Linked DNA regions of Homo sapiens. The protein of the gene in region 7 purifies or fractionates together with the protein of the main gene of each other region. This does not show direct contact. Each region holds a gene or a part of one and is shown on either strand. Other genes may lie near its edges.

Region 1 (4,726 bases), on a different chromosome or scaffold from region 7:
GAGCCACTGTGTCTGGCCAATCTATTTCTTAAACAGTGACATGGATTTGGATTCAAATTGTGTATCAGGGTTGCTGTGCATTTGCGTAAATGCTCTTGTATATAATCTGCATTTTCAGGAGTAGCAACATCAAGGTGGAATCCTGAAGTTTAGAAACTCTTGAGAAGCACAGAGAGATGGAGGAGCTTCCTGAAATAGAACTAGGGGCTGGGGGATGGCAGCGTGAGGGCTAAAGTGGGTGGGTGGTTAAAGGAAGAAAAAAGTAATATGTAATGGGTCAGGCTGTCTGCTGGACACTTGAGATAAATAGGGCTGTTTTAATCCTTACAACAACCATGTGAGTTTTTGGAGTTAATTCTCCCATTTTAGGGGCCAGATGTGGTGGTTCAAGCCTGTAATCCCAGCACTTTGGGAGGCCAAGGTGGGCGGATCACTCGAGGTCAGGAGTTCGAGACCAGCCTGGCCAACATGGTGAAACCCTGTCTCTACTAAAAATACAAAAATTAGCCGGGTGTGGTGGTGGTGCCTGTAATTCCAGCTACTGGGGAGGCTGAGGCAGGAGAATTGCTTGAACCCAGGATGTGGAGGTTGCGGTGAGTCAGGATTGTACCACTGCACTCCAGCCTGGGTGAAGAAGCAAGACTCCATCTCAAAAAAAAAAATTCTCCCATTTTATTGACAGGGAAACAAAGATTCACTGATATTAATGTGTTCGTGGTCTTGGAGGTTGTGAGAGGAGGCAGTTTTGAACCGGATCCACCCATTTCACCTAATGGTTCTAGGCAATAAAGCTGTGGAATGGTTGGAAGATTTGTGGTTAAAAAAACCAAAAACGATGCCACATGTCATAGGGGACAGAATGCAGTTATTTCTGGGGTCACTCAGCGAATGTTGCGAAGACGTGCAGCTTATTTTTGGAGGAATCTCCTGGCTTCAAAGTTCTTTTCTCTCTTGAGAAAGTTACCACATCCTGATGTTGAGAAAACTTTTGAAATGGTGTAGTTAGGAAACAAGGCATTTCACCTCCATTGCTGGAAACCATTTTATGACATCATGCCCTTTGCTTATGGCTGAATGGAGCTCCTCTTGTGGTGAAATGGCAGGGATTATTTGTTAGGAGCCAGGACGCAGGAGTCCATTGAGGAGCTGGGTTCACACCCAGGCTCTGCTGCTTACTAGCTGTGTGATCTTGGGAAAATAACTTTACCTCTCTGAGTCTCAGTTGTTTCATCTGTAAAATGGGAATATCAATAATTATGTATCTCATAGTTTTTTAGTCCATGTAAAGTTTAGGAGAATAAGTGCTCAGTATGCCTTAGGTGTTTACTAGGGCTAATGGTAATCCTTAGGTGTTTGCATGAGGTTTACCGTTGGGGTCTACAGTGTGCTTCTTTGAGAGGAGGGGCCTTTTATGAGAAATTTAGAAATATGAATTTCACTGCTTTTTCCTGATCAAATTTAGGAAAATGAATAACTATGTAGAGCATTCTGTCCAGGTATGTCGAGGCCCTGGTGTGATGTTGTGGCAAGGATGGGAGCTTAGGTACCAGGTGGCCCAAGACTTTGCCTCATTGTAACAATCTACGTTTTGTGGGTGGCCACACTGGATGAGGATGCTTTGATGCTTGATATATTTGGATTTGGGGGACTAGGAAGTTTTGAATATGAATCAGATTGAGAAAGAAGAACTGAATAGATATGTTGTCTACCACAATGTTTTAAACAGCTTTATTGAAGTATAATTTATATAGCATACATCTATTGAAAGTATGTAAACTGGCCAGGTGCGGTGGCTCATTCCTGTAATCCCAGCACTTTGGGAGGCCAAGGTGGGCGGATCAGGAGGTCAGGAGATCCAGACCATCCTGGCTAACACAAGTGAAACCCCATCTCTACTAAAAATACAAAAAATTAGCTGGGTGTGGTGGCGGGCACTTGTAGTCCCAGCTACTCAGGAGGCTGAGGCAGGAGAATGGCGTGAACCCAGGAGGCAGAGCTGGCAGTGAGCCGAGATCGCGCCACTGCACTGTAGCCTGGGCGACACAGCGAGACTCCATCTCAAAAAAAAAAAAAAAAGTATGTAAACCATTGATTAAAAAAAAACCAGGTGTATGGAGTTATGCAACCATCACTCCGGCATGGGTTTTGAATGTTTCCATCACCTCCGAAAGTCTCCTCCAGCCCATCTGCAATTCATCCCTGCCCTTGCCCCAGTCCCAGGCAACCAGTGATCCGCTTTCTGATTCCATAGGTTTGCCCTTTCTGGAAATTGTCTATCAATGGAATCACACCACGTGTTGCCTTTTGTGTCTGGCTGCTTTAATTTAGCATGAAGTTTTTGAAGTTTCTTTTTATTGTGTAATAGAATTTCAGTTGGGCTTGGTGGCTCACACCTGTAATCCCAGCACTTTGGGAGGCCCAGGCAGGAGGATTGCTTGAGCCCTGGAGTTCAAGAGCAGCCTGGGCAACATAGTGAAACCCTGTCTCTACAAAAAATAAATAATAATAATAAAAAAAGCCAGGCATGGTGGCTTGAGCCTGTGGTCCTTGCTACTTGGGAGGCTGAGGTAGGAGGAGTGCTTGAGCCCAGGAAGCGTAGGTGGCGGTAAACCCTGATCATACCGCTGCACTCCAGCCTCGGCAACAGAGTGAGACCCTGTCTCAAAAAAAAAAAAAAAAAAAAAAGCCATTTGTGGATATATCACCTTAAATCTTTTTGTTTGTTTGTTTTTAGACAGGGTCTCGCTCTTGTCACCCAGGCTGGAGTGCAGTGGCATGATCTCTACTCACTGCAACCTCCACCTCCCGGGTTCAAGCGATTCTCATGCATCGGCCTCCTGCGTAGCTGGGATTACAGGCTCCCGCCGCCACGCCCAGCTAATTTTTTTTTTTTTTTTGAGACAGAGTCTTGCTCTGTCACTAGGCTGGAGTGCAGTGGTGTGATCTTGGCTCACTGCAACCTCTGCCTCCCGGTTCAAGCAGTTCTCCTGCCCCAGCCTCCGGAGTAGCTGGGACTACAGGCGCATGCCACCACGCCCAGCTAATTGTATTTTTAGTAGAGATGGGGTTTCACCGTGTTGACCGAGATGGTCTCGATCTCTTGACCTCATGATCCGCTCACCTTGGCCTCCCTAAGTGCTGGGATTACAGGCGTGAGCCACCATGCCTGGCCTAATTTTTGTATTTTTGGTAGAGACGGGGCTTCACCGTATTGGCCAAGCTGGCCTTGAACTCCTGACCTCAAGTTATCTGCCCACCTTGGCCTCCCAAAATGCTGAGATTACAGGTGTGAGCCACTGACCCTGGCCCGGCCCAGTGTTATCACAGGGTCCTTAAAAGCGAAAGACAGGCAGGAGAGTGAGTGTCAGCATAAGAGAAAGATTGGGAGAGGCTGCACTGCTGGCTTGAAGAGGGAAGAAGGGGCCATGAGCCAAGGAATGCGGGGGACTCTAGAAGTTGGAAGAGTTAAGGAAACGGACTCGGTTGGAGCCTCCAGAAGGAACACGGCTCTGCTGACACCTTCCTTGATTTTAGTCCCATGAGGCCCATTTTGGACTTCGGACCTAACTGTAGGGTAATAAACTTGCATTGTTTTAAGCCACTCAAGTTGTGCTAATTTTTTTTTTTTTTTGAGGCGGAGTCTCGCTCTGTCGCCCAGGCTGGAGTGCAGTGGCGCAACCTTGGCTCACTGCAAGCTCCGCCTTCCGGGTTCGCGCCATTCTCCTGTCTCAGCCTCCCGAGTAGCTGGGACTACAGGCGCCTGTCACCACGCTCGGCTAATTTTTTGTATTTTATTAGAGACGGGGTTTCACCGTGTTAGCCAGGATGGTCTGGATCTCCTGACCTCGTGATCTGCCCGCCTTGGCCTCCCAAAGTGCTGGGATTACAGCCGTGAGCCACGGCGCCCGGCCAAAGTTGTGCTAATTTGTTACAACAATGAGGAGAAGCTGTCACACACCGATGTGTGCTGCAGACCCTGGGAACGGATTGTCGTGCTCCTCTTTCCATCCCACAAAGGGGACTGGAATCTAGACAGGAAGCCCGCCACCTGGGTGGAGGCATCAGAGGCATTTCAGAGGTCCTACATTTTGCCTGAGAGCATAGAGCTTATGTCAGCATGTTTATGTGACTCATTATCTGACGGTGGAGGAAAAAGATGAATATTTATTTAGGACCTGCAGTGTTTTGGCTCTGAACTCATGTTTCCTCTTTCATGCTGCACAATGGCCCTTTGATGTTGGTAATTTTTTTTATTCTTGCTTTACTGATAAGGAAACAAAAATGCCCTTTCTCTTTGATGTGATGGAGGTGGTGTTAGGTAGGACTCTCATTACTCTCAGGACTTACATTCTTGTTTTTTATTTTGAGACGGAGTCTCACTCTCACTCAGGCTGGAGTGCAGTGGCGCAGTCTCGGCTCACTGCAACCTCTGCCTCCTGGGTTTAAGCAATTCTCTGCTTCAGCCTCCCAAGTAGCTGGGACTACTACAGGCCTGCGCCACCACCACGCCCAGCTAATTTTTGTATTTTTAGTAGAGACAGGGTTTCACCATGTTGACCAGGATGGTCTTGATCTCTTGACTTTGTGATCCGCCTGCCTCGGCCTCCCAAAGTGTTGCGATTACAGGCGTGAGCCACTGCACCTGGCATTTTTTTTTTTTTTTTTGAGACGGAGTCTTGCTCTGTCGCCCAGGCTGGAGTGCAGTGGCGTGATCTTGGCTCACTGC
Region 2 (3,655 bases), on a different chromosome or scaffold from region 7:
TCCAGTATATTGTCAAAAAAGATAAAGCTCAAGAAGTGGTTTAAATAAACTTTCTGCTAGCTTTCCTTATCAAGCGGGAAAAAAATCTGGTGCCTAGACTAGATTAAACCCGTATTCTGTCTTACAACGCAAAGAATATTCTGTACCTCCTTCATAAGCTTTGCTGCCTGTCTCCCCACTCTCATGACAGTAGGCTTCCTAGTCATCATACTTGTGGTTTCTGGCCTCCTGTGCAGCTTGGGGAAACCACAGTTTACCACTGAAAGAGCTGATGATAAACTGTCTTTGCTACAACCTGTTTAAGTCATGCTGAGCTTCTAGTGTTCCTCTTACCTCTTCCCAGACCCAATGCTCTCTGAATTATCAGAGAGCATTTAGAACCCAGTAAAGGTGGCAGAAGATGATGACCTTTATAGATGCATGGCTGTTTGGCCTGTTGACATAGGTGTCCTGGTGGCAAGAGCAAGGCAAGGTGTCAGATTCTGAAGCTGTCCTAAGCCTAGACTAACACAGTTTGGACGAATATAAAGCAGTAACCTCTGAATCAGCCCAGAGCCTCTCCGGGTTCTCCTTGGACAGAGCGATGGAGAGTCAGGAGAGTCAGGACCGACCTGGCCAGGCACTCCTGCTCTCTAGTCCTTGCCAGTCATCATCTGTCTCCAAGAGGCCATAGGGTTGCAGCCTTTGATTGATTTGCAGAGGCCTATTTGCTGTCTCCGTCAAAAGCCCTGGCTGGTGAAGTGTGACCCAGGATCAGCAAAGGAGGAATAATCCAGTCTGGCCTCTCCCACGGGACCACAACAGAAAACCTACTGGGTGGAGAGAACCCAGCGCTGGGCAAGAAGGAAGCAAACACCTCACTCAAGCCTAACAAGATTTCCTGTTTTCCCCCAAACAGGCACTGTTCTCCATCCTGCCCACCTCCAAACACTAGAGCATCGGGGCAGATGTTTTTGGAACTTGTTAGCCTCGCATCCCTCTAACTCCTGGGAAACTCGCTGGGGCCCTATGTGAACCCCTGGCCTTCCTTTTCCCCTAGGATATCAGATGGCTACAGACTGTGAGGAAGGAATTAGGCAGATGGTGCAGGACAGATCTTCCCCAGCCCCTCCCCCTACCCTTTTAAAAAGTAAGCCATCCCGAGTGGATAGCCTATTTCATCAGAGCTACTACAGCCGGAGCCTGACTCTTAAGACCCTGGAGGTGTGGCGTTTCACCCGAAAAATGGCAATTTCATTCCCCTAAGCAGTTCTGCCCATTTTCCTACTTGATCCCAGGGAATTTACGCCCAGAACGATGGAGACCATGGCGAAAGTTCAACATTCCACACAGGATTCCCCCTTCTCAATCAGATGAAACCTCACCATGCCCACTGCTTAGGAGCCTTCTACATGGCAGCTAACTGCCGAGCCCATAAAAGTCCTATATTGGGGAATAGACATAGCTTTGTGTTCCCCTGAGATGCCACCAGAAACTGCAAGAGAACCGCAGCAGCCCCACTAGGCTCACAGAGAAGAGGAACAGCAAGGCCTAGCTCCAGGCCAGGACAGTGGGACGTTCCCACAACAGTCTGTCCCCCAGGCTGCCCTTCATGCACCCAGCATGCACTGCGCTTTCCAGGCCCTCTTTTCCTGTGGCACAGGAGAATCAGAGTGAGTGAGATGAGCTAACTGGACGTCTGCCAACTGTCTGAGCTTTTGGCCTTTGGCAGTGGAGGGCTGGGTTAGAAAACAACTATAACAAAACTCTCAGCAACTTGAAATGTCCCTGAGTTTCCTATGATATACAGGGGAAAGCCTGTCCTTCCTGGCTGCTTTAATGGATTGTCTCTGAAGACACATCGCTGATGGGGGGCCCCGGGAAGGCCTCTCCTGCAGCCACTGCTCTTTCATACTGGGTCTCAGGGAATCACTCCCATCAGCTGAGCAGTGAACAACAAAAGGAACACGCTGCTCTCACTAGCTACAGCAGATTTTAGTCCCTGGTGGAAATGGAAGCCCAAAGAAGATCGTGGGTGGCCTCTGCAAGGAGTGCCAGGGGCAATGGGCCAGTGTTCCTGCTGACCCCTCATCAGCTGCCCTGAGATACCAGCCTGGACTCGAGTGTCCCCTTCTCTCCTCACCTGCACGCAGGTCCCCTAAGCAGACCTGGTTCACGCACGGAGACCTGTGTGGGTTAAGCCCCCATCTCACGAAGCAAATGTGAGAAAATCCGAATCCAGAACAAGGGGTTCAAGGTTATGAATAACCTGTGCTAATCCCAGAGGCCCCAGGACAGAGTAAGTGGGAACAAACACTGAGTGTAGGGAGGGGTAAGAACATAGAGGGTGGGAAGATGGGTACACGAGGCTGGGGTAGGAGAAGGAAAACTTGGGAGCTGGACTTTCAGGTCGTCAGATCCCACCGAGCCAGGATGTAGCCCTGCCCTCCTTTCCAGCCCAGCCACCTGCTGGAGTTTCACCCCTGCCCGGGACTGCTCTGGACGGAAGGCACATGTGAACACAGCAGTGTGGCATGGTGCAAATGGAATCTTTGTTCTCATCCTGGCTCTGTCACCAAGTGGCTCTGACCTTGGGCAAGTCACTTACCCTCTTCAGGTCTCGGCAATCTCACTGCAGAATGAAGGGATTCCACTAGTTCATCTATAAAGTCCCTTACGTGGCTTTTTCTTGATCTCCCTCATCATCCAGCAGCACTGAGCTCAGGCACTAGTGGGTTATTTTACAAGAGGAATCTGGACAGAATGTGATTTGTTCAGGTTGAAAAGGGAAAAATTAAGGCCCTGGGGGGATTGGGAGGGGACACCCCTCGGAGTTCACTCTCCCTCCCCAGTCTTTCCCTTCCCCATCCAAACGGCACTTGGGGTGGTTGGTCTGGAGCTCTGTGGTGCTGCTGGAGGCCACCGGCAGACCGGACTAGAGGTGTGTGTCTTCCTCCTCATCCAGGTCGTCCTTGGTCAGGTTGTCCAGAGGGACGATCCAGCTGTCCCCCAGCTCCCCGTTGAGGCTGACCACCTTCTTCTCCTGCATCTCAGAAGAGGTCTCCATCACTTCCAGTGTTGGGTTGTCATGGTAACCATTCTCCACTGTCTGCAGCTCCTCTGTTAGCCGCTGCTAGAGTGGGGAAGGTGACCGGTGAGAAGGGGGTTTCAGAGGGCTCTGAGCTTAATACAGCGCATGTACGTACCCCTCCCACTCAGGAGCCCCACTGTAGCTAAAGCAGGCCCTCATTGCTCGCCTGTGGGGCTGGCTGCTCCTGGTGGTCATTCTGGCTCTCAGCCTGCCCGGAACTAGTTGGGAACAAAGACTTGCCCCTCACCCTCACCCTGGTGGCAGAACCTGTGAAGTTAGTGGAGATGGACTTTGTTCTCCAGAGTCCTCTAAGCTCTCTCCTCCCCTTCATCCCTTCCCCCAAAACCTCCTCTCCAGGCACCTACCTCACCTATCATAATGAATGGGAAAAACACTATTAAAAAATGACCTCTCTCGGGCTGGGTGACTGAGCCCTCAAGCCTGGGCAGGATGGGTACGGTGTCTCTAGAATCATCCCTGCGGCAGACAGCAGCCATCTGGCAGAGGCGCTTTCTGTCCCTCTCAAACACAACCTTGAGTGTATGCTAGAATCACCTGGGGAGCTTTTAACAACTACACTGATGG
Region 3 (3,500 bases), on a different chromosome or scaffold from region 7:
TGCCTGAGTCCAGGAGTTGGAGACCAGCCCGGGCAATACAGTGAGAACTCGTCTCTACAAAAAATTTTTAAATAATATAAAAAATAAAATATTAAAATTCAAAAAATAAATTAAGTATATATCCAAATGTGGGATGATATCTAAGGCAGTATTCTGAAGGAAATTTATAGCCTTGGTTACATTAAAGATGAAAGGCAGGAAGGAAGAAAACTAATGAGTTGTATATCCATCTTAAAAACTATAAAAACAGCAGAACAAACCCAAAGAAAGCAAAAATTAACAAAAGAGGAAATAAACATACTAGAGAGGATCAGCATAACCAAAAGTGGTTCCCTGGGACAGATATAAACAACATTAGGCCATCAAATTTTAAAATGTACAAGATACTGAAATCTATCAATTGCACAATACTTATCGTGCAGTTTATTGCATGTGAATTATACTTCATTAAAGCTGTTTTAAAAAGCAGGCATTTAGTGCAGTGCCAGAAACAGGGTAAGGATTCAATATATGCCAGATACTGATATTCTTCACACAGTATGCATGATCAAGCATTGGTTTTTGCAGGGTTGGTATGAATAACTAATGTTTGGTTGCGTTGAAAGTTTCAGCTGTGACCCCTACATTATTTTCCTGAAATTAAATAAGTATAACCCCTCAAAATGTGTATGACATTGACAAATTCTTGGGGAAAAAAACGTAACTTACCAAAAACAGATTCAAGAAGAAATGAAAAGCCAACTGAATCAATAGTTAAAACCTTTCAGTAAGAATACCCCAGGTCCTGATGGTTTTAGCACAGAGTTCTAGCAAACGTTCAGGAAATAAATAATCTCAGTCTTACACCAATTAATTAACACAACAGAAAAAGAAGGAATACTTTCCAATTCATTTGATAAGGCTAATATAACTGTAATACTAAAACCTAACAATATCGCAGGCCGATTTCGCTTATAAAATAAATGCAAAAGGTTAGGTGTGGTGGCTCATGCCTGTAATCCTAGCACTTGGGAGGCCAACACAGGAGGATCCCTTCAGCTCAGGAGTTCAAGACTAGCCTGGCAATATAGTGAGACCTTGTCTCTACAAAAAATGAACAAAATTACCTACGCATGGCGGTGTGTGCCTGCAGTCTCAGTTACTATTGAGGCTGAGGTGGGAGGATTGCTTGAGCCTGGGAGATTGAGGCTGCAGTGAGCTGAGATCCCACCACTGCACTCCAACCTGGGCGACAGAGTGAGATCCTGTCTCAAAATAATAAAAATAATAATAAATAAAAATTAAATTAACTAAATAAATGCAAAAATCCTAAAGGGAATATTAGCAAACTGAAAGTTAAGTTTGGTTTTATATTTAAAAGTATCAACTGGAGCTGGAGCTAGGTGCAGTGGTGTGCACCTGCATCCCAGTGAGTTGGGAGGAGGAAGTGGGAGGATTACTTGAGCCAGGAGTTTGGGGCTGCAGTGCACTATGATCATACATGTGAATAGCCGCTACATTCCAGCCTGGGTAACACAGCAAGATCCCATCTCTATTAAAAATAAATAAATAAATTGATTTATTAAAAATAAATAAATTGATTTGTATACTATATTAATATTAAAGAAGAAAAACTATATTATCTCCAAGGGTAGAGGAAAAAACATTGCTAAAATTCAACATGATAAAACCTCAAACTAGACATTTATGGGAACTTCCTTAAACAAATAAAAAAACTATAAAAAACCTAATGTAAAATCATACTTAGTGAAACAAAGTATTCCCTCTAAGACAAAGAACAAGATACAAAACTGGTCGTTGAGTCCTAGCCAATGAAGAAAAGGATTTTTTAAAAGATAAAAGGGCTAAGAAGAAACAAACTGTCATTATACACAGATAATTGTGTTGTTGAAAATCTAAATTTATGTCCAGAAAAACATGAAGATTAAGAGCCATCTAGATTGCTATGTATGTACACACAAAAAAACAACAAAAAATACACCAGCAATAACAAAGCAAAACATTTTAAGGAATACCACATATAATTGTTTCAAAAAATATAAACTACTTAGGAATAAATCTAACATAAAGTATATAAGATCTTTATGGAGAAAACAATAAAATTTTAATGAAAGACACTACAAAATATGTTGAAATTATATCCCATTGGTGGATAAGAAAACTCAGTATAGCAAAAGTGCTGACTCTCACCAAACTGTCTATATAGAAGCAATTAATTCCCAATAAAAAGACCAACAGAGTTTCTGTGAAACTTGATGAGCAAATCCTAAAATGCATACAGGAGTGGAAAGGTCCATGAACAGCCAAAACATTTCTGAAGAAAGACCACAAGGTGGAAGAAGCTACCCTATCAGTTATCAAGACACATAAAACTACATTAATTAAAACAGGGTGGCACTGGCACAAGGATACACAAATAAACCAATAAAACAGAATTAAGTGGCCAGAAACACACTAATGAATACTTGATATATAAGACAGGTGGTACTGCAAATTGGTAGGGACAAGAGACTCTGTTCAATAAATGATGCTAGAATAGCTGATTTCCCTATGGCAAAAAAAAAAAAAAGAAAAAGGGAATTGAATGCCTATCGCACACTATAGAAGACAATACAGAAAAATATCTTTATGATCTCAGTGTAAGGAAAGATTTTCCAAGACACAAAAAACACAAGCCACATGCCATCTACATTAAGAACTTCTATTCATTGAGATGCCATAGACAGAGGGGAGGGGAAAAACCAAGGTAAAACTGGAGGAGGAAAAGAATTTAGAATTTAGAATATATAAAGAATGTCTATGAATCAAGAAGAAAAAAGACAAATAATCTAACAGAAAAAAGTTGATAAAAAAGACTTGACACTTCCAGAAAATGAAAGTTCAATAGTCAAATATCTGAAAAGATCTTCAACCACACTAGTAATGAAGGAAATAATATCAACGACAAATCTGATCAGCAAAAAGTAAAAAGTCAAATTGAAAATAAAAAATGTTGGTGAAAATGTGGAGCAAAAGAAGTTCTTAACCATAGCTGGTTAGAGTATAAATTGGCACAACCTCTGCAGAAAGCCACTTTGGCATTACTAGTGTAGCTGAACATTGTTAAACCCTACAGCTCAGCAATCCCATTTCTACACATTTCTAGGCATCTCAGGACATTGGTTCTCAACTGGGATGATTTTGCCCTGCAAGGGACATTTGGCAATTTGTGGAGACATTGTTGGTTGTCACAATTGGGGGTGCTACTACCACCTAATGGGCTAAGAGGCCAGAGATGCTGCTAAACATCCTACAAAGAACAGGAGGGCTTCCCACACTATTGAATTAATTTGGCCCAAAACACCAAGTCTCAAGGTTGAGAGGTCCTACCCAAGAGAAACAATTTTTATAACTCCTGTGTATTATAACCAGTTCTAATTCATTTCCCTGACAACGAGGTTCCCTTTAGGTCCATTCTTTCTAATTAAATGCAAGCTGCTTTCTTTAAAAGTACAAAAATA
Region 4 (4,726 bases), on a different chromosome or scaffold from region 7:
TAATCCCAGCTACTCAGGCGGCTGAGGCAGGAGAATGTCTTGAACCCGGGAGGCAAAGGCTGCAGTGAGCTGAAATCGCACCACTGCACTCCAACCTGGGTGACAGAGCAAGTCACTCCCTTAAAAAAGAAGAAAAAAAAAAAAATATATATATATAATGGCTATATATATAATGGCTATATATATATATACACATATATACATATACATATATGAGAGAGAGAGAGAGCGAGCACGCGAGAGAGCGCACACGCATGAGCAGGGGATGGATGGTTGGTGAAGAACCGTCAAGACATACCATCTGCTGCCCCATGTTCTCCAGGGATCCATCAGGAGCCTCGGCCCGCACCCTAGCTCCATGCTCTATCTGGCCCACAACTTCCACGCCATGGGCCAGGCCTGGGAGACACAGGCAGGGCCTGGTGCTGCCCGAGGTTGGGGGATAGGCGTCCTGAGTTCTTTCCGTTTTAGGGCTCTGACCTAAGCTTGAGGTTTCCACAAGAAGTGTGTGACAGTAGAGATGGAATAACACAAATCTAACTGCTAGAAAAGAAAAATTCAAATATCTGCTTTACTCAGTGAGCCAGAAGGTTCAAAAGGACAGCAGATCCCACAATTACAGAGGTCTTAGGATCCCGTATGGATCGGATTCCACACGTCACCACTAGGGGGAGGCAAGTGCAGCCCAAAGCACCGCTGACCGCGCCCAGGGATGGTCCTTGCAGGGCCTCTTTTTTTTCCCCCTGAGACGGAGACTTGCTTTGTCGCCCAGGCTGGAGTGCAGCAGTGCGATCTCGGCTCACTGCAACCTCTGCCTCCCTGGCTCAAGCGATTCTCCTGCCTCAGCCTCCCAAGTTGCTGGGATTACAGGCATGCGCCACCATGCCCAGCTAATTTTTGTATTTTTTTTAGTAGAGATGGGGTTTCGCCATGCTGGCCTCAGGTGATCTGCCCGCCTTGGCCTCCCAAAGTGCTAGGATTACAGGTGTGAGTCACTGCGCCCGGCCTGGAGCGCTTCCTTTTTAAGGACTGTGAAAAATGCAACAAAGGGTACGTGGAAATTTACCTGGCTATAGATTCTGATCATGAGATCATCAGCTGTAGTGGGTTGAACAGTGTGTCCCCAAAAATTCACATCTACCTGAAGCTTGGGAGTGTGACCTTATTTGGAAATGGGATATTGGCAGACGTAATTTGTTAAGATGAGGTCATACTAGAGTAGGGTGGGCCCTAAATTCAGTGACTGATATCCTTACAAGAAGAAAAGACACAGAGACACATACAAGGCAGAAGGCCTCATGACAGGAGAGGCAGAGACTGGAGTGATGCATCCACAAGCCAAGGAACACCGTGGGCTACCAGAAGCCAGGAGAGACAAGTAAGGACTCTCTCCAGAGCCTTCAGAGCGAGCACAGCCCTGCTGATGCCTGGATTTTAGGTTGTGGCCTCTAGAACTGTGAGAACTGTGAGAGAATCAAGTCCTGTAGTTGCAAGCCACTGTTTGTGGGACTCGCTTACATCTGCCCCAGGACACCGAGATGCCAGCATTTGCAGCAGGGAACCCAGCAAGGCCTTTCAGGGGCCTCAGACCTGTGTCCCCTGCACTCTGGAGATTCTGGCACAGGTTCAACCTTTGAGAAACCAATTCCTGGGCCAGGCCCCAGAGGCCTTTGGACTGGAGGATCACAAGATCATCCGCTCCTTGAGGCAGTGAATGGAGGTCATGGCTGAGGCAGGTGCTGGAAAGCTTAAGCCCCCAGCTTCTCCTGGCTGCTCTAAGAACCATCTCAACATGTTTCTTGCGGCAGGAAAGGGCAAGGAGGGGTCTCGGGGGCCGGGATGGCCCCGGAGCAGGACACCACTAAGGGCATTTTCCCAGCATGGCCTTCCCGCCGCCTTGGACGGGGGACCGGCAGCCTGCCCTTGGGGTGCTGCCTGAGTGCTGGTCTTCAGTGGGCGGCCCACTGGCACGTACGCAGCCACCAGCACCCCCTACAACATGAGCGAGGGGCCCAAGCTCACGCCCACCTGAAATTGTAGCCAGGAGATACGTTGTGCTCAACGTCCCGTGTATCGAGGCGGCGGAAGGAGTACCTGGGCAAGCAGAGGGAGGCGGCTCTGTCCAGGTTGCAGTCCCAGTTGACCTGGATGCCCATGATGCCTCCCTGGGGATGAGCAGCAGAGACACGGCAAGGCTTTCCTCAGCACCTGGCACGAGACGCCTCCAGGGCTGGGTCAGGAGAGCCAGGGCCCGCACCCACCTCCACGGCCATGTCCTGGAAACTGTGTCCTGCGTTCTCCACTATTTTGCCAAGACGGAATATGGGGCAGAAGGGATCTGTTTTAGCATCATAAATGCACGACTTGAGGTAAGTAGTGGTGATGTTGGGAAGGATATTCCTCCTAAAGTCGAGAGGAAGCAGAAAATCAGAGCGACGAAAACCTCAGAGAAGAGAGAAGAGCCAGAAGTTTCTCCAAGACCCTGGTGAACTCACACACCTGGCCACCACTTACTTGCTGAAATTAAATTTGGGATACCAGATGTTGTTCTTAACCAAAAGAGTGAAGTTTTCTGCAGCCTTTAAAAAAGCAGGTCTGAAAAACAATGATAACATTACTGTTAATAAAATACATACAAATACTCACATAACCATGTTATATATATATATATACACACATATATATATGTATTGTGTGTGTGTGTCTGTGTGTGTGTGTGTGTATATATATATATATATATATTTTTTTTTTTTTTTTTTTGAGATGGAGTCACTCTGTCACCTCGAGTGCAGGCTTGAGTGCAATGGCGCGATCTCAGCTCACTGCCACCTCAGCCTCCCGTGTAGCTGGGATTACACAGGTGTGAGCCACTATGCCTGGTTAACTTTTTTTGTATTTTTAGTAGAGACAGGGTTCCACCATGTTGGTCAGGCTGGTCTCCAACTCCTGGCCTCAAGTGATCCGCCTGCTTCAGCCTCCCAAAGTGCTGGGATTACAGGCATAAGCCATCACGCCCAGCCTATATATATTTTTGAGACAGGGTCTTGCTCTGTTGCCCAGGCTGGAGTACAGTTGCATGAACACAGCTTCTTGTAGCCTCGACCTCCCAGGCTCAGGGGGTTCTCCCACCTCAGCCTCTCAAGTAGCTGGAACTATAGGCATGCATCACCATGCCTGGCTAATGAAATTTTTTTTTTTTTTTTTTGTAGACATGAAGTCTTCCTACATTGCCCAGGCTGGTCTTGAACTCCTGACCTCAAGCAATCTTCCTACCTCCGCCTCCCTGTGCTGGACTACAGGAGTGGGCCACCATGTTCAGCCCCTATGTAATATTTTTAAAAACATATACACACATCTTACAATGTCATTTTGTCAAGAAGATGAAACACGTCTAGCATTTTCTACACCCTTCTGCATGCACACTCTTCTCTTCCAAGAGAAGACACTGAGCCGAGCCTTCCAGGTTCTTCCCCTCAAGGAAGGGCAGGCCCTCTCCCCCAAGGCGGTGAAAACTGAATTGCTAACCAGGGAGGGGATTTGTGGCCTCACTGGAAATCAGTAGGCCTGGCTTTGGGGCCGCAGGCGTTCTCCAGGGAGAGAATGAAGGCTGGGCAGATCCGGTTTTACAGGTCAAAGCAAAAGTAAATTTGCCTACAGGCTGGATCCTGACCTGTCTGAAAAGTGCACAAAGCACCCGCCAGCAGGTGCGCCGGCCTCTTCTCAGAAGTGCCACGTCAGCTCCTGGCTGACAATACAAGTTGAATCTGTCCCCAAGGGGACTCCATTTCTTTGGTGAATTTCTCCTGGAGAATCTGGCACTGTATGGCTAACCCTTCTGTGGGGGATGTTCCCCTGATCCAGGTGGGATCTTTGGAATGACAACATCAACAGTCTTCCCAGCCCTGAGACAGGAGCAAGGTCAGTGACAGGGCTGCACTCGGAGGAGAGCTGAGCCTGTCACCACTGCTGTCAGAGAAAGGCTGGGACCAAGGGGCTTCTCTCAGGTTTTTTTTTTTTTTGAGATGGAGTCTTGCTCCTGTTGCTCAGGCTGGAGTGCAATGCCGCGATCTCGGCTCACTGCAACCTCTGGGTTCAAGTGATTCTCCTGCCTCAGCCTCCCGAGTAGCTGGGGTTACAGGCGTGCACCACCACGCCTGGCTAATTTTTTCATATTTTTAGTAGAGATGGGGTTTCACCATGTTGGTCAGGCTGGTCTCAAACTCCTGACCTCAGATGATCCACCCACCTCGGTCTCCCAAAGTGCTGGGATTACAGGCATGGGCCACTGTGCCTGGACTTCTCTCAGGTCTTCAAAGTCCCCACTCCCTCAAGAGGGATGGCTTACAACAGGGGTGTTCAAGTTTTTGTCATTTCCTGTACCGTAACACCCACACACACACCTGTGTACCTCACATGTAATACTTTAAGATCAACTCACCTTTTTAGAGAAATTGAGATGAAATTCACATAACATAAAATTAACCATTTTAAACTGGACAATTCTGTGGCATTTAGTACATTCATAATGTTGTGCAATCATCACCTCTGTCTAGTTCCAAAACGTTTTAGTCTTTGTTCTGTTTTTGAGACAGGGTCTTATTCTGTCACCCGGGCTGGAGCGCAGTGGCATGATCTTGGCTCACTGCAACTTCTATCTCCCGGGTTCAAGCAATTCTCGTGCCTCAGCCTCCTGAGTAGTGGGATTACAGGTGCGCACCACCACGCC
Region 5 (4,726 bases), on a different chromosome or scaffold from region 7:
AAAAATGTCCCTTTTTCTTTTTTTTCTTTTGAGACGGAGTCTCACTCTGTCGCCCAGGCTGGAGTGTAGTGGCGCGATCTCGGCTCACTGCAACCTCTGCCTCCCGGGTTCAAGTGATTCTCCTGCCTCAGCCTCCCGAGTAGCTGGAATTACAGGTGCCCGCCACCACACCCAGCTAATATTTTGTATTTTCAGTAGAGACAGGATTTCACCACGTTGGCCAGGCTGGTCTTGAACTCCTGAACTTGCGACTCGCCCGCCTTGGCCTCCAAAAGTGCTGGGATTACAGGCATGAGCCACCGTGCCCGGCCAAGAGTTAAAAATCTTAAGCCTATAAATTCCAAACCTCAAATCTAAACCTATATATGCAATCTCTAATATATGATACCTATAGATCCCAAACAATCCTTTGCTTTTCATTATGAAAAATAACATAAAAAATCCAAGACTGGGATGGGTGTGGTGGCTCACATATGTAATCCCAGCACTTTGGGAGGCTAAGGCAGGAAGATCGCTTGAAGCCAGGAGTTTGAAACTAGCCTAGGCAACATAGCAAGACTCCAGCTCTACAAAAAATTTTTAAAGGCCAGGCATTGTGGAACATGCCCAGAGCCTTAGCTACGCAGGAGGCTGAGGCAGAAGGATTACTCGAGTCCAGGAATTTCAGGTTACAGTGAGATCTGACTGCACCACTACACTCCAGCTGGGCAAGAGAATGTAGTCTCCAAAAAAGCAACAACAACAACAATCAAGACCATGTGTCCAGGAACATCTCATATAACATGACATCCTCTCCCTTGACATCCAGCATTCTACCAGAATATGCCTGAAAGTTATAAATAACCTTTGGGCAGCCAAGATCTCAAGTCCACATTAATTGGTTGTAATACCAGATGAGACATATCCAGTCAACCTTATTTACAGCTCCTGCAAAGGCAGAAAAACAAATATACTACACAGAAATAAAGCTGTAATATCTATACAGAACTCCAGAATTCAATTAATCCAGACTAAAAGACTGGGAAAAAAGACACTATTCTCACATTTCTCATGTTTATTTTATTGCTAGTATAGGAGATAATAGTGTCAACAGTAATAAATCTAACAAAATTTTATAATGCATTGTTTCTTATATTGAAGAGTAACAATTCTGATAATTTTTACCTAATTGGTCAAAGATTTCTCTGTGTATTATTTAACAGAAATATGGAAGCATTTTCCAAGGATCTTTTATATACCACTACTTACTATGTCCAAGTGTTCCATTGTGTATAAAAACACAAAGATGAGAGTGGTTCCTCTCAAGATCACAGAGAAAGTTTTACCATCATGCCCGCTGCTCTCACTCTCATTTATCATTCTGATGGATCTTTACTTAGTCTGAGGTAATAACAACTCATCTCCATGTCTGCTTTTGCTTTTCAGGCTCAGATTAGGTCTGGTTCTCCAAATCCCTAGCTACTTGAGGCTTTGCAATCCCAACTCATTCTTCAAAACACTGAGCACCCACTTTGTTAAGAGCAACAGTGTAGACAAAAATCACATTCAGCAATCTATGTTTATTCAACACCTGTTTTGTGCTAGGACTGGAATGGTATCAGAAGGCTGTGGAAGAAACTTGTGCCCTGGGTAGACAGTTAGAAAATGACCTCTAAATTCCTAAGGCATGATTTATGGTGAAAGGACAGAACTCCAGTAATTTTCATAATCCCAGGTAGTAATCAGACTGTCGGTTAGTTAGAATTTTGAGAAGCAAAAACTGCTCTGAGCACATGCTGAGTTTGACCCTTACAATATTCATTATGTTGAACAGAATGGTCCAAAAATAAAAGGAACAAAGGCATGCACTCCGAATTATAGAAACATTCAAAGAAAGACTGAATGGTCACCCTGCAGATAGTTCTAGAACGGATTCTTGCCCACAGAGTTAGGTTAGACAAAGTGACCTCTAAGTCTCATCTAAGATTCTAAAACATTTCACTGCTATGCCTCTTTTAGCACAGAAATGTGCTCCTTAAAAATAGTAAGACAAGAAAAATCTTGCCAACAAAATCATTTTAATCCACAAGAGAAACTTAATGAAAGAGAAGATCATTTTGTGACTATTTTTGTGAAGCAATAATTAGTTTAAGTGCATTTATCCTAATTTATTTTTAGTGGAAAATTATTTTTAACTGTTTGGGATTGCTTAAAATAAAGTACATCAATAAGGGATAGAAGAAAAGCTTTTAGATTAAATTCACTCTGAATTTAAAAAGAATATATTTTATTATTGCTTAAAAACTCCTTTAGCTCCTTGTACGAGTATGAGATAAAAGGTGATAAAAGACACCCTTGATGGTTCTTCTCTGTTTCCTTCAACAGAGATGTTCACTATCTCAAAACTAGAATATCAATTTTTCTGTAACCTAGCTATAAGGAATTCAACATCTATACATTTCTTAACTAAAAAAACTTTCTCTGTCTGATATGCTGTAACTAGTAAACTAAACAGCTGAGTGACAGCAGTTTTCCAAATGTATACTAATTTTTTACTAGTACTGTGGTAGTTAAATCTTACCCATGTGTTAAACTGTCCAAACAGCTAATAAGACAAAAGTTAGGAATAGGTGAAATTATCTTTGAAAATCTCATAGGATGGTGCATCTCAAAAGATCACACTATCAGTAAGTCCAGCTCAGCCAATCTTCTCCCAAAATTGTACTATATTGATATTACCCTACCTGACCATCAGACAAAGTGATTGGTTTGTATATTGTTTAAAAATATCTATCTTTAAACACAAGAATCACACTCAGCAGAGAACCACTCATATTTCCTATTTCATCTCACATGAAGCAGAAAAAAATTCATTCTCTTCTCTGCCCACTCTTCCCTTACCTTAGTGCATGTAATTGAAACTGTACAAATACTGTAGGTGTATAATGTAATTCTGCAGTAATAGTAATGCTACTAGCAGTAATAATAGCAGAAATAGCTATTGCAGAATTTGTTTGGTAACTTGTCCTATAAATACCAGCATTTCTTCCAGATTAAGAATTTTAACTGTGCACATGGCTGCCCAGAAAAAAAAGACATTTCCCAGATTCTATTACAGCTTTTAGCTGCTCTTACCAATAGAGTAAGCAAAAGTGATATGTGCAACTTGCTATGTACTACACACGTGAGTCACTGGTATAGAAAGAAAGCATTTGCTCTGGACTTCCTCCAGAGTGGGGCAAAGAAGTGGCAGTGACCCAGTCTTGACCAAATACAAGAGGACATTATACCAGGCTGGAGGCCAAGCTAGGTGGATTAACAGGATAGAAGACATCTGAACCCTTTGATGACATCAGGGACCGTAGGGACCTTGCCAGCCTGGACCTGTAAGTCAATATAGTTCTACTGTATTGGAGCCACTATATTTTGAATTTTCTCCAAAACACCAGTTTAGCCTAAAATTAATATAAAAGCAAAACTAAAACTAAAACTAAAATTAATATAATACCAAATATTTACCGGGTACTTACCAAATGGCAAGCATTATACTAAAAAGGCTATATATTTATTACCTCATTTAGTCATTACAATGACTCTCTGATGTAAGTAGGTAGTATTAAGACTCCTTTTTATAGAGATGAAGAAACAAAAGCTTACAATGAGGCTAAGGAGCTTAGCCAAGTTCAAATGACTAGAAAGTGGGAAGGCCAATAGTGAAACCAAATATCTGTCTGCAATGTCTGTGAAAATAAGCACTCTGCTTATGCTCGCTCTCCAAAAATTAGAGTGACTGGACACTGTAAAGCATTACAACTGTAGTAATTTTTACCAATTCTCAGAACTCTCAAGGTTTTGGCAGAAAGATTCAACAAAAATGTGTGGTTCATAATTAAAGGATTATATACTATAGAAAACTGATGACATTTAGAAAATGGAGTACAGTAACAATACATGACTGTTACAAAAAATCTTTTACCTCTGAATGTTTGCTTTACAATCAGATATACAATTCTGAATCCAGAATAGATCTCAAAGATCATTTACTCCAATTTCTTTATTTTACAGATGATGAAACAAACACTAAAAATAGTTACATAAATGACATGAAAACAGTCAAATGTTTCAATAGGAAATGTCTCTGATTTTATGATGACAGCAAAATTACTTAACATACAGTTTGTAGATGACGTTTTAGAAGTATCTACTTGTGATGATTAATATTACATAAACTGAACAGTATTCTTATTTTACTTAATATATGTATATAGAGAAATACCCACCTTGTAAATAGAGAGTGATAGTGGTTAAGCAGCAACAAAAAATGAGTATTTTATGGCAAATGGTATGTTTAGGGTTGCAATGAAACACTGGGCTTCATATCTTTAAAGCTAATTTAAAAATGTAACTCTAAAAATTAATAGTCTTAGAAGTCAACTTCTGTCCTCTAAAAAAAGAAAAAGACTTTTAGTCACATGAAAGCCAGAAAAGAAATTAGTCAAGCTCTGTAAATCTACAATTAGGATAAGATATTTTAGGTAGAGGACTATTATCTCCTCAAGGACAGAGATCATATCTGTCCTGTTCATCACTGCATCCTAGCAAAATGCTAGGTACGTGGTAGACAATAAAAAATTGCTGGATGAACATTAAGAGATCCTGCCAACTACTCTTGCAATCCAATCACAAAACAAAGCATACTTATATTAAAAAAGCAAGAAGAAATTTTGCCTAAAAGACTGGCCCTGAC
Region 6 (4,726 bases), on a different chromosome or scaffold from region 7:
CTGTATTTTCCCAGTCTGAGTAGTTGTGAATTCCACAACAATGCAGCTAAAGGAGAAGAGAATAAGTATTATTTCTCACAAAAACCAAATACCTGAAGTTCCATGTACTACAGAGCTTTAAAATAAGCTACTCTAGACCAGTGATGTCCGATACAACTTTCTATAATGGAAAGTCTGCATGATCCAATATAGCAGCCACTAGCCACATGAAGCTCTACTGAGCACTTAAATTGTGGCTAGTGTGACTAGAAAACTGCATTTTAAATTTTAATGTAAACAGCCAGACATGGCTAGTGGCTCCAGAATCTCCATATGAAAAGTACATTGCCAGGCCGGGTGCAGTGGCTCACGCCTGTAATCCCAGCACTTTGGGAGGCCGAGATGGGCGAGTCACCTGAGGTCAAGAGTTCAAGACCAGCCTGACCAACATGGTGAAACCCCGTCTCTACTAAAAATACAAAGGCTGAGGCAGGAGAATCACTTGAACCCGGGAGGTGGAGGTTGCAGTGAGCCAAGATCGCGCCACTGCACTCCAGCCTGGGCAACAAGAGTGAAATTTCGCCATCTCAAAAAAAAAAAAAAAAAAAAAAAAAAAAAAAAAAAAAAAAAAAGAAAAGAAAAGTACATTGCCTATAAGCGGTAGTTTCTAACTAAGGAAAATCTTCATGTCTTACATGTTAAATATCTGGTTCCATGTTAAATATTATTTCCAATGACAAAGTATTTAAAATATTTGGTCTTAAAAATTTTGAGATTTGCTTTAAGATAATGAAGCAAAAAGTAAGTAGGGGCAATAAGACTGACGAAAAGTTGATATTACTGAGGCAAGGTCGGGGTGCAAACATCTATTACACTATTCTTTCTACCTTTGTGTGTATCAGACTGTCCATAACAACTTTTTTTTGACAGTTTTTCTGTTGCCTTTTCTTATCTTGTTTTCTAAAGGTATATATAGACCTCCCACCTCCCCTGGAGTCAATCTGGACTCCCACCTTTCCTGTGACACATACCTCTCTCTTGCGTCATCACCCCTTTGGCTAAGTACTTTGGGAGAGTACAGACTGGGGTCAGGGAAGGGGAAATCAGATGATAAAAAAAAGTTCAAGATGTTTCTCATCTGGCTAGGTGATGAAATAAACTTTTCAAGGGTGAAGGTTGGGGAAAAATATTGGTCACATCAGGATAGCCATGTATGTGAAGAAACATGGCTAATTTACACAGAAATAGCAGTTAGTTTAATGTTGACCCAATCGTGATTGGTCCTCAAAAACAAATCTGCCTCAAGAAAGCTCACCTGTCTCTGTACATAATCAATAGCCCGGCTAGCAGCATCAGGGTTGGTTCCATTGTAGGTCTTATACACTTTCTGAATGCTGCGATCAACCTCATTTTCCACCTGAATCAGAACAAAGAATTCAGTCCCTCAAAAATACTAGTAAAAGTAACATTAGTCAAGGCTCCTACTAAAATACTTAAATGAAATGTTTGCAAGTTGCCAGATATCTATGAATTTCCTGTAAAGTTTTCTCCCTTCCTGCCTTCATCTTCATATAGATATAGATGAAGGCAGGAGGGAGAAAAGTGACAGGTAAAAATTCAGACATATACCACATACATTCAAGCATTCAAAGAGAAGATTGTGTGCAAAATGGCAGGCTAACAATGTATTCAAAAGGGAGAAAAGTTGAGGCTTGGGATAGATGTCCTAAATTATAAATGGATGCCTTCCTTTTACAAATAAGTTACTCATTTTCCTTTCCTAAAGGAGGTAAAACAAAGTAACTCTGAAGCTCCTGTAAGATACTTTTAGGACAAATGCCAACATTATTTCCATTTTATTTATTCAACGTTTAGAGTTGGCTAAATGTGCAAAAGTAATCGGCAGGTTTAAAAAAATCAGTCCTTAGAAATGGCACTTTATGAAAAAGCTACTGTTCAATGTATTGCAAAAAGGAGACAGGAAACAAGCTTCATAGCTTATTGCTGCCAATTACTAAAATGGCAAGCAAGTATCACTTAGTAAAGTTTGCTTGTACCAGATCCTCCTTACCCCTCGGAGGACTGGACTTATCTGGTAATTACAACAGTAATATCATAAGTCCATAAAATTGATAACCAGATCATAGGTAGGGACATAATCCATTGCATTTTTTTTTTAGCACAGCTTTACAGTACCTTACGTATCAATGATCTGAAAATTAACTTGGCATATTATGCCCTTGACTCAAAACCATTAAGTTATAATGAGAATGAGTCTATTATGTCTTTACCATGCCTCTAAAATTATACCCATATTAATTAATTTAAAGCAGCCTGTTTAGCCTTAAGTAGTACTACAGGTAGACAGCAAAATCAGGCAAAATAGAAAGGAAGGAACGGTGAAATGATTAAAAAGAATGAAGGGCAAGAAAGGAGTGCTGGCACCAGCTGCCTTGGTGTTCTAAGTTGGCAGGACCCCTTGTTCCTCAGGACAGGGGTGGAAGGTGGGATCACAACTCACAACACCTTTTTCTATGTTTAGGACCAAAGCATTTTTTAAAGAGACAATGGAAAACGCAATTCTGAGTTTGGTTCTTCTAAAGCAGAAATCAGAAAATTATGCCTCCCCTCATATAGGCAATCTGTGTGCTGAGGAAATCTGAACAAACTTCTCAGCTAATTATTCATTTGCAGCTATAAATACCTATAATCAAGAACAATACATATATAACACTCTGCTATATTAAATGAGGTAAGGAGTCTTGACATGTAAATATTTGCCAATTAACTTTAGATATTTGAAATACAGATTAAACAAGTAAGGCAAAAGAAAATGTTTACTCTGATAAAATGAATGTGTTCTATTTTACTTGAAACACTTAAACCACCTTTTAAGGCATTATGTGAATTACAGTAGACAACATACCTTTGCTCTGTAAACATATCCCAAAACCACTACAACAACTTCTGTGACAAAAACCAAGAGCAGGATGATGACAAACTGTAAGAAAACATGGTTTAAAATTATATACAAATGAAAAAATAACTTTAAATACACTCTTGATTTAAAAAAAGTTATCAGAGATAATTGCTAGAAGTTTAAATGTTAACTCTGTTCCAACTATAAGAGCCAAGGAGTCTCATGTTCAAGGAGAGTAGCATAGACTAAATACTCCTGCATGTTCTCACAACACATCTTACCGTGGCAAGTCCACAGCGACTTTCCCGGATTGTGGCACAGCAGCCAATTAGCCCAATGATGAAAAGCAGGGCTCCTACAGCTATGATCACTACAGCAGGGATGAGCGTGTACACATCTTCAAAGAAGTGGTCATAGTCATCATAAGTGATGAAGACATAGGCTCCCACATAGCATAAAATGCCAGCTGCCCCCTGTAGAAAACAAAGTCAGTACTGGTCTCTAAGCACTGCTGGTAAAAATTTCCTATTATTGCTTAGTATGGTATAATTTAATGAGAGTTACCGTAACTGTTATAGACTTTTTTCAGTAAAGCTGAAAATTCTATGATTCCTTGTTAAGAGCATTTCTATACTAGATAAAATTAAAAAGTTATCCACACTTCACCTACTTTTCACGAATTGATGGTTCAGCTAGGACCAAGAAACCATAACCAAATAATAACAATGATGATGACACACACCTACACATCCCTAAAGGCTTACTGTAGCTCAATTCCACATCCAATACGGATCAGTATGGTGGTAGGGGGATCTTTGCTCACTACAGTTGCCCTCAATAAGTGGGGAAATTTGGTAGAAATGACAGAGCTTGGATTTGAACTCAGGCAATCTGACTCCAGAATCTACACTTCTAATCTCTATCTACCCCACCTCAAGGAAAAGAAAATACACCAACTAGTAAGCATGATACCCACCCCACTTCCAAAAATCTTGCTGTCCTAGAGACAGTGAAATGGCAAAGCTAGAGGGCTCAGTCATTAAAGAACACTGCAAGTCCTCTATCAATTCTTTAGAATGGTGGTTCTCAAACTTTGAAGTGAATAGGAATTGCCTGAGGATCTGAATAACAAGCAGATTGATTCAGGAGGTCTGAGGAGGAGCCTGAGAGTCTGCATTTCTAACAAGTTCCCAGGTGATGCTGGTGCAGCTTCTTCTTGGAGCGCACTCTGAGTAACAAGGTATTAAAGACCTAAAGGGAAAGTGAACACACAAAGACAAGTGATAGGTGTGTCTTATTTCAGCTGCTGCTCCAGGCATCATTCTCCAGCTGCAGAGTCTTACTTTCTCCGCTATTGTCAATTTTGCTATCTTTGGGTACCAGCTCTGTGCTGACAGCCCAATGCCACTGGCTCATATACAAACAAGCAAATGCAGTGTCAGAGTAAGTGTTAAAACATTTGGTTATCACTTGGATAACAATGAGTTATCATTTGTAGAGTACTTTGAAACTTTCACAAGAAGTATTTCATCATCCTTTAAAATTTAACATATAAATCATCTTCAAACTAGAAACAGCTGCCACAGTGATACTGGAAATATCATTAACTTCTCTGAACCTGAAAACCCAGATCATTTAAGTTTATGAAATTCAGTAAGCTTGGGGATCATCAGTATATTTTTTTACACTAGGCCATTAGGATCACTGTCAGATGAGGAAGAAAAAGACTCCATTTATGTAAATTTGGGAAAGTAATTTGATTTTTTAAAATGTAACATGAACTTTTTAAAGTGAGAAGACAACTAGAATAATGAAGGCAATTTTTAA
Region 7 (4,499 bases):
ACATCAAAGGGATAAAGAAACCAAAGAGTAGCTCAAGCCCCAACATCAGCAGCTTCCACCTGATGGGCTCCGAGACAGTCTGGTACTTGGGTTCACAGACATCGCTGCCTTGGGTGTTGTATTTTTGGTTGAAGACAAAAGTTGAGCTGGAGATGATGACTGACAGCCCCCACACAACAAGGCAGATGATTTTGCTGCGCGGTAGTGTTCTGGATCGGAGCCGGAATGACTTAGTCGCCTGTACAATGGCGATGTACCGGTCCATGCTAATGCAAGTCAGGAGCAGCATCCCGCAGTTAAAGTTGATGGCATAGATGCCTTTTAGCAACTTGCACGTGGCATTGCTGAAAACCCACGCACCGGTGGCATGACTCACTGCCCAGAATGGGAGAGTAAGAACAAAGAGGATGTCTGCAATGGCCATGTTCAAGAGATAGACGTCTGTCATAGACCTGGCCTTCTTATAAAAAGCAAAGGTGATCACCACCAGAATATTCCCCAGGAGGCCAAAGACACAGATCAAGGAGTAGGCAATCGGTACAAATAGCCTGGAGAACTGCCTGACCTCCTGCAAGGAGCACAGTAACATCTCAGAATCAACTGAGTAATATGAAGTATTGACTGACACAAAATAATCTTCACTGGAGTCGAAAACATCGCTGAAATTCATTGATTCCTGGAAAGGAAACAAAGATAGAGTTAGCTGCAGTGTAGTGTTCAAGTAGCCACAGTGAACCCAAATTATACCCCTTGCCAAAAATAAAAATCTTACCCCGCTCATTGTGGGCAGAAAAAATGCAAGCTGGTTGTAGAAAAAGGAGTGTATGGTTCAGCCCCTTCAGCTCACAGGCAGCGGTAGCAGGAAAGTAGAGGTGACTCTAAGAAGGAAAGAAGGCAAAATGCACTACAGTTAACACAGGTATTCCTGGAGAGCCAGACAGTTAAGTTACCAGCATTCCATCTCGTGTGAACAGAGTGCACAGCACACTATTTTACATACAAATATTCATTGAGAATAGGCATCAGCAACCTCTTTCTGTAAAGGGCCAGATAGTAAATATTTTAGGGCTTTTCAGGCCATATGGTCTCTGTCACAGCTCCTCAAATCTGCCTTTGGAGCTTGAAAGCATCTACAATTACATAACTGAACAGGCCTCGCCGGGGTCCGTTGGCTAGAGGCTATAATTTGCCAACCCTTGATCTATTGGTTAAATAAGGTGCTCTCAGAAATCCACAAGTTTTGATCTGCACAAAAATCTTTACGCAAAATTTAAAAACATTCAACAAGATTTTACTGAACAAAATCTATAGAAGTGTGAAAGCGCATAGAAAATGTATAATTCATAGTCCCGGGCTTTAAATCGTTCACAATATATGTCAGTGATGATCACCCCTGTGGGCATGTGAGAATCTCCAGTAGAATTTAAAGTTTGACTATGAGTGCTGTTCTCAAGACACACTGAACAAGCTGCTCCAGCCTGGGAAGGCGCTGGAGAGGAATGCACCTGCTTCTCCACAGCCGCAGACCTTTCCAGTAGACATTCCAGGTCACAAGCATGAATCTGCTGTGGCAGAGGCATCCTAATCATCAGAAATCCAAATGCCAGAGGAAAGGTGGAGGCTGGCACAGTTAGGAAAGACTTCCTGGAGGAGGAGGCTCTGATCAGGGTTCTTGGAGAATGGTGAGGCTATGGGCCAATGATTGACAGAGAACCGCCATCTCCTTCAGGTGACCAGCTCGTCTCAGGCTGAAGAGCAGTCCTGAGTCATGAGCCCTGTATGTTTGTGAAACAGCTGAGCAACCAGCCTGGCCGAATCAACTGGATTGTCAGGAAACAATGGAGTATACCGTGTGCTGGGAACGCCAGCAGTGGCGGTGCATGGGTCCAGGCTGAAGAAGTTTAGCAGGAGACCGGGAAGAGCTGGAGCGGTTGTGGAGCGCCTGAGGACGAAGGGCTTTGAAATCCACCATCTGAAGCAAACTTAAAAAGAAAGAAAAACCCTTCGCTATTCTCAGGCTCACTCCTTCTTTCCAGCATTGTCCATCATCCTGTTTATTAACACGCCCTGGACGTCCCCCAGTAAAATCCATGGCCTGAAACGCTCTGATATTGACGTTGGATGTGCTTCCCAGCCAATCGCCCATCTTCCTCCTCTTTTCCCTGCTCTCGCACCACGTGGGCCTGGCCATGCCAAGCGGGAGCAGCTAGGGAAGTGCAGCCCCAGGTGCACAGGCAGAGAAAGTGGAACTGCCCTCCTCGCCCCCACACTGTGTCATATCAGTCCTCACTTACGAGTCCACGTGGATACTGACCTTTTGGAGAGGAAGCCCATGTAACACAAAGTTCACCCTGAATTATTTTCCAAACCTATTTCTTACATAATTTTGATTCTCATTTCATTATTTACTCCACCCCATTCCTTCCCTGATGCCTGGAGTCACAACTTAGAGATCGGTTCTTCACTGCCCCTCAGTCACTGCTTTGGGCCTAAAAAGCTGGAGGAAGGTATGGAGTCACCTCTGCACTTTTGTAATCCCAGCAGGTATACAGTTGAGTGCTTTAGAGTATGCAGAAGAAGCGTGGTATAGACCCCTGTGTTGCAAAAGCATGTGACGAGGTAATCGTATCAATCAGAAGAAGCACAGCAATCAGAACACCACTGCTAAACTTCAGCTTCCAGCCACGGTGGATCAACAGAGACCAAAGGCACCCTGCTGCATTAAACAACTAGAAAAACCTACAAAATGTAACAACCATTTTCAGACCTCGGCACTAGGCATCACAGGATTATGGATCCTGGCAGGAGGAGAACAAATACAGTGAGAAATGATACACACTCTTTCTAAGCTGCAGAGCATGGCAGGGGTGGAGGGCATGGGAGGTGAAATATACAATATGTAAAATAAAATACACCAATTGGAATTACCATTTGGATGTTAAAACTATATATATATATATATATATATATATATATATATATACACACATATATCATATATAATAGTATCAATAATTATATATACAATTGTATCATAAAATGTAAAATACTTATGGATAGCTCTAACAAAATTTATGTGAGATTTATATGCTAAAAACTACAAAACATTGTTGGCAAAAATTAAATAAGACCTAAATTAATGGAGAAATTTATCATGTTCAATTTTCAATGACATTTCATGTTCAAATTTATCAAAGATTCAATTTCAAGATATAATTTCTCCCCAAATCGATCTGTAGATACAACATAAACTAAATCAAAATTATGGTAGGGTTTTTTTTTTGAGAAATTGACAAGTCAATTCCAAAATTTTTATAGAAATTCAAGGAAATTAAAATAGCCAAAACAATTTTGAAAAAGATAAAAAAAAAATGGAGGACTCACACTACCCAGTCTCAGAGCTGACAAGGAACTACACTAACCATGACGGTGTTGGATTTCTGAAAGGACAGTTACATAAATCACTGGAACAGAACAGAGGCCAGACATAGATCCACATATAGATGGCGGACTGATTTTTAACTTAGGTGCCAAGGTAACTCAATGGGAAAAGAACAGTCTTCAGTAAATGGTCCTGGAATGACATGAACAAAAAGTCGATCCTTACTGCTTACCTCACACCATTTGCAAAAGGTAACTCAAATGAGTTATAAATCTAAATGTGAGAGCTAAAGCATAAAACATCTAGAAGGAAAAATGGGAGAAAATCTTTGTGACCCTGGAAAAAGAAGCTTCTTATATAAATTGCAAAAAGAATGAACTGTAAAAAAATTGATAAATTGTACTTGATTGTACAAAATGTAAAACTTCTGCTCTTTGAAAGACACTCAAGAAAGTGAAACATATATATATTGAATAGAAAAAAGTATGTTAAAGCTTATATCTGATAATAGGTTATATCCAGAATATACAAATAATTTTTACAACTCCCTATCAAAAACATAAACAATAAGAAACAGGGGGAAATGTGAACAGGCAATTCACCAAGGAAAATACATGGATGGCAAATACACACACAAAAAAGACGCTCAATGCCATTAATCATGAGGAAAATGCAAATTAAAACCACAATGAAGGCTGGGAACAGTGGCTCAGGCCTGTAATCCCAGCAATTTGGGAGGCCGAGGCAGACGGACCACTTAAGTCCAGGAGTTCGAGACCATCCTGGCCAACATGGTGAAACCCCATCTTTACTAAAAATACAAAAATTAGCCAGGCGTGATGGCGTGCTCCTGTAATCCCAGCTACTTGGGGGGCTGAGGCAGGAGAATCAGTTGAACCCGGGAGGCGGAGGTTGCAATGAGCTGAGATTACGCCACTGCAGTCCAGCCTGGGTGACAGAGAGAGACTCCGTCCAAAACACACACACACATACACACACACACACAGACACACACACAGAGATCCCACTGGAAGGACTAAGATTAAACAGGGGGCTGGAAGCTGGGAGAGGACATGGTGCATCTGGGGCTCTCACACTTTGTTGGTGGGACTGCAAG

The links.
Region 1: the proteins of CCR6 (region 7) and ATP9A purify together in Homo sapiens (co-immunoprecipitation; 2 studies listed by BioGRID and IntAct, with this or other methods). This does not show direct contact.
Region 2: the proteins of CCR6 (region 7) and PODXL purify together in Homo sapiens (co-immunoprecipitation; 2 studies listed by BioGRID and IntAct, with this or other methods). This does not show direct contact.
Region 3: the proteins of CCR6 (region 7) and GOLGA5 purify together in Homo sapiens (co-immunoprecipitation; 2 studies listed by BioGRID and IntAct, with this or other methods). This does not show direct contact.
Region 4: the proteins of CCR6 (region 7) and P2RX4 purify together in Homo sapiens (co-immunoprecipitation; one large-scale study listed by IntAct). This does not show direct contact.
Region 5: the proteins of CCR6 (region 7) and LCLAT1 purify together in Homo sapiens (affinity purification with mass spectrometry; one large-scale study listed by BioGRID and IntAct). This does not show direct contact.
Region 6: the proteins of CCR6 (region 7) and TSPAN3 purify together in Homo sapiens (affinity purification with mass spectrometry; one large-scale study listed by BioGRID and IntAct). This does not show direct contact.

Annotation. Positions count from the first base shown.
Region 1 is NC_000020.11:51,760,665-51,765,390, reverse strand, and holds part of ATP9A (probable phospholipid-transporting ATPase IIA), read left to right. Parts: intron 1-4,726. UniProt on the Homo sapiens protein: Plays a role in regulating membrane trafficking of cargo proteins, namely endosome to plasma membrane recycling, probably acting through RAB5 and RAB11 activation. Also involved in endosome to trans-Golgi network retrograde transport.
Region 2 is NC_000007.14:131,501,397-131,505,051, forward strand, and holds part of PODXL (podocalyxin isoform 1 precursor), read right to left. Parts: intron 3,113-3,655; coding exon 2,915-3,112; 3' UTR 1-2,914. UniProt on the Homo sapiens protein: Involved in the regulation of both adhesion and cell morphology and cancer progression. Functions as an anti-adhesive molecule that maintains an open filtration pathway between neighboring foot processes in the podocyte by charge repulsion.
Region 3 is NC_000014.9:92,800,805-92,804,304, reverse strand, and holds part of GOLGA5 (golgin subfamily A member 5), read right to left. Parts: intron 1-3,500. UniProt on the Homo sapiens protein: Involved in maintaining Golgi structure. Stimulates the formation of Golgi stacks and ribbons. Involved in intra-Golgi retrograde transport.
Region 4 is NC_000012.12:121,226,402-121,231,127, reverse strand, and holds part of P2RX4 (P2X purinoceptor 4), read right to left. Parts: intron 2,596-4,726; coding exon 2,515-2,595; coding exon of another isoform or gene 2,511-2,514; exon of another isoform or gene 2,500-2,510; intron 2,404-2,499; coding exon 2,262-2,403; intron 2,166-2,261; coding exon 2,029-2,165; intron 1-2,028. UniProt on the Homo sapiens protein: ATP-gated nonselective transmembrane cation channel permeable to potassium, sodium and calcium. CTP, but not GTP or UTP, functions as a weak affinity agonist for P2RX4.
Region 5 is NC_000002.12:30,526,569-30,531,294, reverse strand, and holds part of LCLAT1 (lysocardiolipin acyltransferase 1), read right to left. Parts: intron 1-4,726. UniProt on the Homo sapiens protein: Exhibits acyl-CoA:lysocardiolipin acyltransferase (ALCAT) activity; catalyzes the reacylation of lyso-cardiolipin to cardiolipin (CL), a key step in CL remodeling.
Region 6 is NC_000015.10:77,052,884-77,057,609, forward strand, and holds part of TSPAN3 (tetraspanin-3), read right to left. Parts: intron 3,373-4,726; coding exon 3,181-3,372; intron 2,981-3,180; coding exon 2,906-2,980; intron 1,397-2,905; coding exon 1,295-1,396; intron 47-1,294; coding exon 1-46. UniProt on the Homo sapiens protein: Regulates the proliferation and migration of oligodendrocytes, a process essential for normal myelination and repair.
Region 7 is NC_000006.12:167,132,417-167,136,915, reverse strand, and holds part of CCR6 (C-C chemokine receptor type 6), read right to left. Parts: intron 879-4,499; 5' UTR 782-878; coding exon 773-781; intron 677-772; coding exon 1-676. UniProt on the Homo sapiens protein: Receptor for the C-C type chemokine CCL20. Binds to CCL20 and subsequently transduces a signal by increasing the intracellular calcium ion levels.